Homo sapiens: one gene and its partner. The protein of the gene in region 2 purifies or fractionates together with the protein of the main gene of each other region. This does not show direct contact. Each region holds a gene or a part of one and is shown on either strand. Other genes may lie near its edges.

What was found. Proteins that work in one complex are often made in the same cells at the same time.
Region 1: the proteins of GAL3ST1 (region 2) and NDUFA3 purify together in Homo sapiens (affinity purification with mass spectrometry; 3 studies listed by BioGRID and IntAct, with this or other methods). This does not show direct contact.

What each region holds. Positions count from the first base shown.
Region 1 is NC_000019.10:54,101,190-54,104,936, reverse strand, and holds the start of NDUFA3 (NADH dehydrogenase [ubiquinone] 1 alpha subcomplex subunit 3), read right to left. Parts: upstream 2,083-3,747; 5' UTR 2,059-2,082; coding exon 2,049-2,058; intron 1,824-2,048; coding exon 1,749-1,823; intron 1-1,748. UniProt on the Homo sapiens protein: Accessory subunit of the mitochondrial membrane respiratory chain NADH dehydrogenase (Complex I), that is believed not to be involved in catalysis. Complex I functions in the transfer of electrons from NADH to the respiratory chain.
Region 2 is NC_000022.11:30,554,131-30,557,808, forward strand, and holds the end of GAL3ST1 (galactosylceramide sulfotransferase), read right to left. Parts: intron 3,272-3,678; coding exon of another isoform or gene 3,263-3,271; coding exon 3,132-3,262; intron 1,967-3,131; coding exon of another isoform or gene 1,964-1,966; coding exon 823-1,963; 3' UTR 505-822; downstream 1-504. UniProt on the Homo sapiens protein: Catalyzes the transfer of a sulfate group to position 3 of non-reducing beta-galactosyl residues in glycerolipids and sphingolipids, therefore participates in the biosynthesis of sulfoglycolipids.

The sequences.
Region 1 (3,747 bases), on a different chromosome or scaffold from region 2:
ATGAAACCCCGTCTCTACTGAAAATACAAAAACAGCCAGGTGTAGTGGCATGCGCCTGTAATCCCAGCTACTAAGGAGGCTGAGACAGGAGAATCGCTTGAACCCGGGAGGCGGAGGTTGCAGTGAGCCGAGATCAGGCCATTGCACTCTAGCCTGGACAAAAGCGAAACTCCGTCTCAAAAAAACAAAAACAAACAAACAAAAAAAACCATAGTACATCCAAAACATCACTTCGCCATGTAATCAACAAAAGATTATTGGTAGTTTACACACTCTGTTATACTAAGTTTTTGAAATCCAGTGTCTTATACCACCTCAATTCATACCAGCACCACTTCAAATGCTCAGTGGCCAGTTGTGGCTGGTGGCTGCCATACTGAATAAGTGTTCAGAACCTTAACCTAGTGCCTGGCTGGTGGACCAGCAGTACTGACAAGACCTGGGAACTCTTCAAAAATGCAGAATCCCATGCCCCACCCCAGACCTACAGAATCAGAACCTACAGTTTGGCCGGGCGCAGTGGCTCACCCCTGTAATCCCAGCACTTTGGGAAGGCAGATCACTTGCGGTCAGGAGTTCAAGACCAGCCTGGCCAACATGGTGAAACCTTGTCTCTACTAAAAATACAAAAATTAGCCGGGCGTGGTGGTGCTCGCCTGTAATCCCAGCTACTTGGGAGGCGGAGGCAGGAGAATCACTTGAACCCTAGAGGCGGAGGTTGCAGTGAGCCATGATCAAACCATTGCACTGTAGCCTGGAAGACAGAGCGAGACGCCATCTCAAAAAAAAAAAAAAAAAAAAGCTGGCCGGGCGCGGTGGCTCACGCCTGTAATCCCAGCACTTTGGGAGACCGAGTTGGGAGGATCACGAGGTTAGGAGATCGAGACCATCCTGGCTAACACGGTGAAACCCCGTCTCTATTGAACATACAAAAAATTAGCCGGGCATGGGGGCGGGCGCCTGTAGTCCCAGCTACTCGGGAGGCTGAGGCAGGAGAATGGCGTGAACCCGGAAGGCGGGGCTTGCACTGAACCGAGATCGCGCCACTGCACTCCAGCCTGGGCGACAGAGCGAGACTCAGTCTCAAAAACAAAAACAAAAAATTAGCTGGGCGCCTGTAATCCCAGCTACTCGGGAGGCTGAGGCAGGAGAATCCCTTGAACCCAGGAGGCCGAGGTTGCAGTGAGCCGGGATCGCGCCACTGCACTTCAGCCTGGGTGAGAGTGAGACTCCATCGCAAAAAAAAAAGCTACATTTTAACAATCCCCCGCCCCCATCCCTGCAGGAACTCCGGTGCTAATTAAAGTGTGAGTAGGGCAGTTCCAGGGCAGAGGGCAGAGATTTTCAATCAGCAAGGCACATTGGGATCATACGGGGATTTTCACAAGACACAGATTCCCCAGTCCCACCTCCACCCAAGCCAACTCAATTCAGAATGGGGGAGAGGAAAGATGAAAAGGAGGAGGAGGATCTGGACTTTTTTTTGGTGCTCAGGTGTTAAGGCATAAGCAGGGTTGAGAACGTCTCATTTAGAGGGGTTAAGAGCGTATTGGGTAGGTGGAGAGGAACGCGGGGGGCGATGGTGGAGAGGTTATAATGGGTATGGGGATAGATAAGGGGATGCCGTGGGGGTGCAGACACACTAGAGGGGACCCGAGGGCGGCGATAGGGCTTTAGGGGTACAAGATGGAGGGATGTAGGGGGACGGGGGTGGACGATGCAAGTTTGCGCCTGGAGCACTCACGCACCGAGGCCCCCGACGACGAAGGACACGACCAGCACTGGCTCCTTGTCCCAGGCATTCTTGAGGAAGGCGCCGACTCCTGAAGGGGTGGCAAGAAGCGTCACCCCTGCAAGTAGCTGCCCCCGGTGACCTCTAACCCTCTCGTGCCACCCCTGCCCTGGAGGAGCCCCCTCGTGACTTCTGCGTTCCCCTCCAGCACGGACCCCATCGCTTCCACCCCTGCCCTGCCGCACCTCAGTCCCAGGACCGCCCAGAGGTTCCCAGAACTACCCGAGCCCCGTGCGCCACCGGCACCTGCACTTACTCGCAGCCATCTTTGTCTCCGCGGCGGCGACAGCGGCGAGGACGCGGAGCACCCTGGGAGTTGTGGTCCCTATGCGCGAGAACCCGCTCCCAGGGCTGCGCGTGCGCCCTGGAGCACAAGTAGAGGCGAAAGCAAGGACGCGGAGCACTCTGGGAGTTGTGGTCCCTCTGTGCGACGGCCCGCTTTCGGAGCCTGCGCGTGCGCACTCGCGCAGAACAAAGATGGAGCCGTGGAGGTAAAGGAAGTGGTGTCAGGAGCAAGCGCAAGCCTGACTTTGCGGACCTGCGTGGAATCTCCTTAGTCTCAGCCTAGAAGTCGCTCCGGAGTGACTAGTCCTCCTGCTGCGACCCACCTAAGGCGGAACAAAATAGTCCCCATTTTATAGTTTATGTATGAAAGCCCATTTTACAGACGAAGAAACTGAGCCCGGGAGAAGGTGAATGACTAACCTGTCCTTCGAGGTCTCAGCTCAACATCGGCTCGTCCTGGAAGCGCTAGGTCTCATCCCAGATGGGTTAGGAGCTTTCTGCGGGCTCTCACAGTGCTCTGTTACCGCCATTATAGCTCAGATCACTTAAGAAACTGACCTGGTCTGGGCCAGGCGCGGTGGCTCACGCCTGTAATCCCAGCACTTTGGGAGGCCGAGGCGGGCGGATCACGAGGTCAGGAGATCTAGACCATCCTGGCTAACATGGTGAAACCCTGTCTCTACTTAAAAATACAACACAAATTAGCCGGGCGTGGTGGTGGGCGCCCGTAGTCCCAGCTACTGGGGAGGCTAAGGCAGGAGAATGGCGTGAACCCGGGAGGCGGAGCTTGCAGTGAGCCGAGATCACACCACTGCACTCCAGCCTGGGCGACAGAGCGAGACTCCGTCTCAAAAAAAAAGAAACTGACCTGGTCTTGGTCTTTCAGTCGGACTGGTAGCTGCTGCTTGAGAGCAGTAACGGAGTCTGAGTTCCCTCTGTGCCTGCCAACATGGCACAGCGAGGGTCTGGCACGTAATAGGTTCTAATTTTTTTTTTTTTCTTCTGAGATTGAGTCTAGCTCTGTCGCCCAGGCTGGAGTGCAATGGCGCGATCTCGGCTCACAGCAACCTCCGACTCCCGAGTTCAAGCGATTCTCCTGCCTCAGCCTCCTGAATAGCTGGGATTACAGGCGCGCGCCTCCACAGCCGGCTAATTTTTCTTTTTTAGGAGAGACGGGGGTTTCTCCATGTTGGTCAGGCTGGTCTCGAACTTCCCGACCTCAGGTGATCCACCCGCCTTGGCCTCCCAAAGTGCTGGGATTACAGGCGTGAACAACCGCGCCCGGCCTAGAGGGGCTAATTTTTATCTATCTATCTATCTAACACAGTATCACACCAAGAGCCTGGCACATAATAGGTGCTAATTTTTCTCTGTCAACCAATCTATCAATCGATCAATTAATCACAGCAAGGGCCTGGCACATAATTGGTGTTAATTTTTATCTATCCATCAATCAATCACAGCAAGGGCCTGGCACTTAACAGGTGCTAATTTTTATCTATCTATCTATCTATCTATCTATCTATCTATCCATCCATCCATCTATCTATCTTTCAATCACAGCAAGGGCCTGGCACATAATAGGTGCAAATTTTTATCTATCTGTCAATCAATGACAGCAAGAGTCTGGCACATAATAGGTTCTTATTTTTAAAACAGACAGATATCTT
Region 2 (3,678 bases):
CCTCTCTCTCTCTCTCTCTATTCTGATCCGGCCACACCCTCTACCCGCCCAGCCCCCTACTCTAGTCCTACCACTTGCTGTGTGATCTTGGTGAAGTGATTGTCCCTCTCTGAGCACCCTTCATTGTCTCTAGCATGAGACAATAACAGTCCCCAGGTCGCTGAGTTTTGGTGAAGATGGGTTGAGATAATGCCCTTAGCCTAGTGCCGGGCACACAGTCAGAGTGAGTAACTGTTGTACTCTGTTGTACTCCTTAGGATGATCACACACACATGCACACATGCACACACGTGCACACAAGCGCACACATACACACGCGCTTTTCCAGGCCTTGGTAGCTCATGGGAGTCCCTGAACCATATAGAACTATAGCATATAGCAAATAACACATCAAATCCCTGCCACCCCATTGGGCTCTGCCCACAGACTCACCCAGGCACCACTGTGGTCTCTTGGGTTCCCCCCACCCCAACCCCCACCCCAAGTCACCACCACTGAGGCTGATTAACAAAAACACAACATCAAATTCCTTTACTTCTGAGGTCTCCCCTTTAAGGGGAGGCAGAAATAGAACATTCTTTATCGGGGAGGGAAAGGGGTTTAATAAAAACTGGTATAATTAGTTAAATACTGATCTCGGTTAGGCCCTCTCTGTGTTCATGGGCCCAGTCTTGGCTGGCTGCCTCCCCCCAGGGAGCCCCCCCTCACCCCGGGGTCTGAGGTGGCACCAGGAGGGGGCTGGGGGCGGCCAGCACCAGCGGCGTCCTGCTCAGCCCCTCTGCAGGGAGCGAGCAGGCAGGCAAGCCGCTGGGCGGTGGGACGTCACCACCGCAGGAAATCGCGAATGAACTTCCAGAGCTTGGTGACCCACAGGTTGGCGCCGAGGTCCATCAGGTACTGGATCTCGGGCGTGAGCATGCGCCGGCAGAGCTGCGCGTGCCGCTGCCCGATGCTCTTCTTGAGGTTGTAGCCCAGGATGGACTTGGTGCCCAGCGGCTGCCAGGGCTGCATGGCCTCGTCCTGGATGGCGGCGGCGTCCACGGCGTGGCCCCCGTCGATGCAGATGGTCCGCATGCGCTCGTTGGCATGGCGCAGGGCGGCCACCTCGCGGGCCATGCGCTCCCGCCCGAAGGCCTCCACCTTGCGCCAGAAGCTGGCGTTGAAGTGGCGGTAGAGGTGGGAGTCCAGCATGTTCCAGGCGGTGGCGCGCCCATACAGCTCCCCCGAGAGCCGCGGCACGGGCGAGTCGCGGCGGGCGTTGAGCTTGAAGTAGAGCACGTCCTCCAGCTCCCAGCACAGCAGGTCCTTCAGCAGCACCAGCGACTCGTCGAAGTACTCTTGAAGGAGCACCAGGTGGAAGCGACGCTCCACCTCCAGGATGTGCTCCTGCACCTGCGGGCTGCTGGGGTCCAGGCTGTTGTCATAGCCCAGGTCGAAGAAGAGCAGGTTTCGGAGGTAGTGGGCATTGAAGCCGTTGGGGTCGTAGTAGCGATCCGGGTCTTGCAGGAACTCGGTCAGCTTGTCGCCGGCCGAGAGCTTCCACGTGAGGGGCACCACCGGCCCGAAGTAGTGGAAGGAGGACTCGAACAAGCGGGCGGGGTCGCGGAGCACCGTGATGAAGATGGCGTTGGTCGGCACCAGGCCGCGCACCTCGTCGTAGTGGAAGCGCATGTGGTTGCAGATGATGTTGAAGCAGGCCCCGGGCCGATAGTCCTGCACCAGGCTGCGGGCGAAGAAGGTCGGGTAGTCGAAGTCATTGCGGCCGTTAGGGAAGGCGAACTTGAGCCGGTGCTTCTGGCCGAAGCGGAACAGGATGTTGAGCAGGGTGCTGCTGGCCGTCTTGTGCGTCTTCAAGAACACGATGTTGCGCCGCGGCTGGCACTCCCCCGCCGAGCCGTTGGCCCGGATCACTGCCTCTGGCTCGAGTGCAGGTGGAGAGCAGGACGCTGCGGCCTCCGGGGTCCTGCTGGGGACAGAGAGGTGGGGAGAGCCTCAGGGGGGTGCTGGGGCCCTCAGGACTCTGGTAGTTAGAGAGGGAGATTATTGGGAACAGTGGTGGCAAAGGAGCTGGGATAGTGAGACCTGTGGGGCCTGAGTCCAGGCTGGGTGCCTGCGCGGGTGGTTTGGCCTCTCTAGCCTCATGTTCCTCTTCTGTGAAATGGGGACGATAACAGGCCCTATTCACGGTGTTGTGAGATGAGGCACACAGGCTCTCCTCTCATTCATGGCCACTGTGTTGCATGTACCATGAATCAGTATCAGCTTGGGCCACATGAAACTGCCATTTTATAGGACAAAAATGGTCCATTTTTGCAGAAATTTGCAGTTTCCTCTGTGTCAAGTTAATATCACCAACCACTGGTATTGCACCAGCTACAGGCTGTGCTGGGTCTGTGCAGAGCAGCCCCATGAGGAAACGGGAGAGCCTGGTTCTCAGGAGCTGGGCCTGGAGTCAGACCGACCCGTTTGAATCCATGCCCATGGACAGGTCGCCCCCACCAGGGCCCCGTTGGCATCTCAGATGATGCAAATCTGAGCCCTGTACAGACAGTGTTACCTGATTCTCATGCTCTATGAGGAAGGCTCTGGGTTTTTTTTGTTTGTTTGTTTTTCTTTTTGTTTTGAGACAGTCTCACTCCGTTGGCCCAGCCTGGAGTACAGTGGTGCCATCTCGGCTCACTGCAACTTCTGCCTTCCGGGTTCAAGCAATTCTCCTGCCTCAGACTCCCAAGTAGCTGAGATTACAGACACACACCACCATGCCCAGCTAATTTTTGTATTTTTAGTAGAGATGGGGTTTCACCATGTTGGCCAGGCTGGTCTCGAACTCCTGACCTCAGACGATCTGCCCGCCTGGGCCTCCCAAAGTGCTAGGATTACAGGCGTGAGTTGCCGTGCCCAGCCGAAAGGCTCTGTTTTTATCCCCACTTCACAGATGGGCACACCAAGGCTCAGAGTTACACGGCGAGCTCTGCCATCAGTGGAATTTCTGTCTGGCACAGCATGGTGCAGGGTGCAGGGTGGCTACCCAAGATCACTGGGGCAGGCCCTGTGGTAATTACAGGGCCCCATGGGTGGGGTGCCATCCCTCCCCCACCTACACCCATCATCTGCCCAGCTGGGCCACTCACGTGGAGGCCAGGCCGGCATGCAGCGGGGGCACGGCATAGGAGTACACCAGCAGCAGGAAACTAGTGAAGAGCGCGCCCAGCACCAGCCCCTTAGCCATGGACTCCCAGGGCTTCTTCTGCGGTGGCAGCATCTCAGACACCTGCAGGGGCAGCACAGAGTAGGGCAAGTGTCAGGAAGCTGGCCCCAGGGAGCCCCCAAGGCTGCCCAGGCCTGGCAGTTGAGCCCTGCCTTTGCCTGCTCTGTGGCCCCCCAGCAGGGTCCAGACAGGGACAGAGAGGCACTGGAGAGATAGACTGACAACCACCTGGAAAGAGACAGCCCCAGGGTTGCAGAGACGGTGGGTGAAGCAACTCAAAGAGAGGTTGGGGAATGGGGCAGGGAGAAGGTTAAAATTTAAAAATTAAAATGAACCGGGTAGAGAACCAGGGCCCCAAACTTTCCACTCCTTTTAATTTTTAAGCTGGCTGATAAGAAATAAAAGAAAAAGAAACAGAAGAAAAAATGAGACAACTAATACTTATTACCTTTTTTTTTTTAGTTATCTTA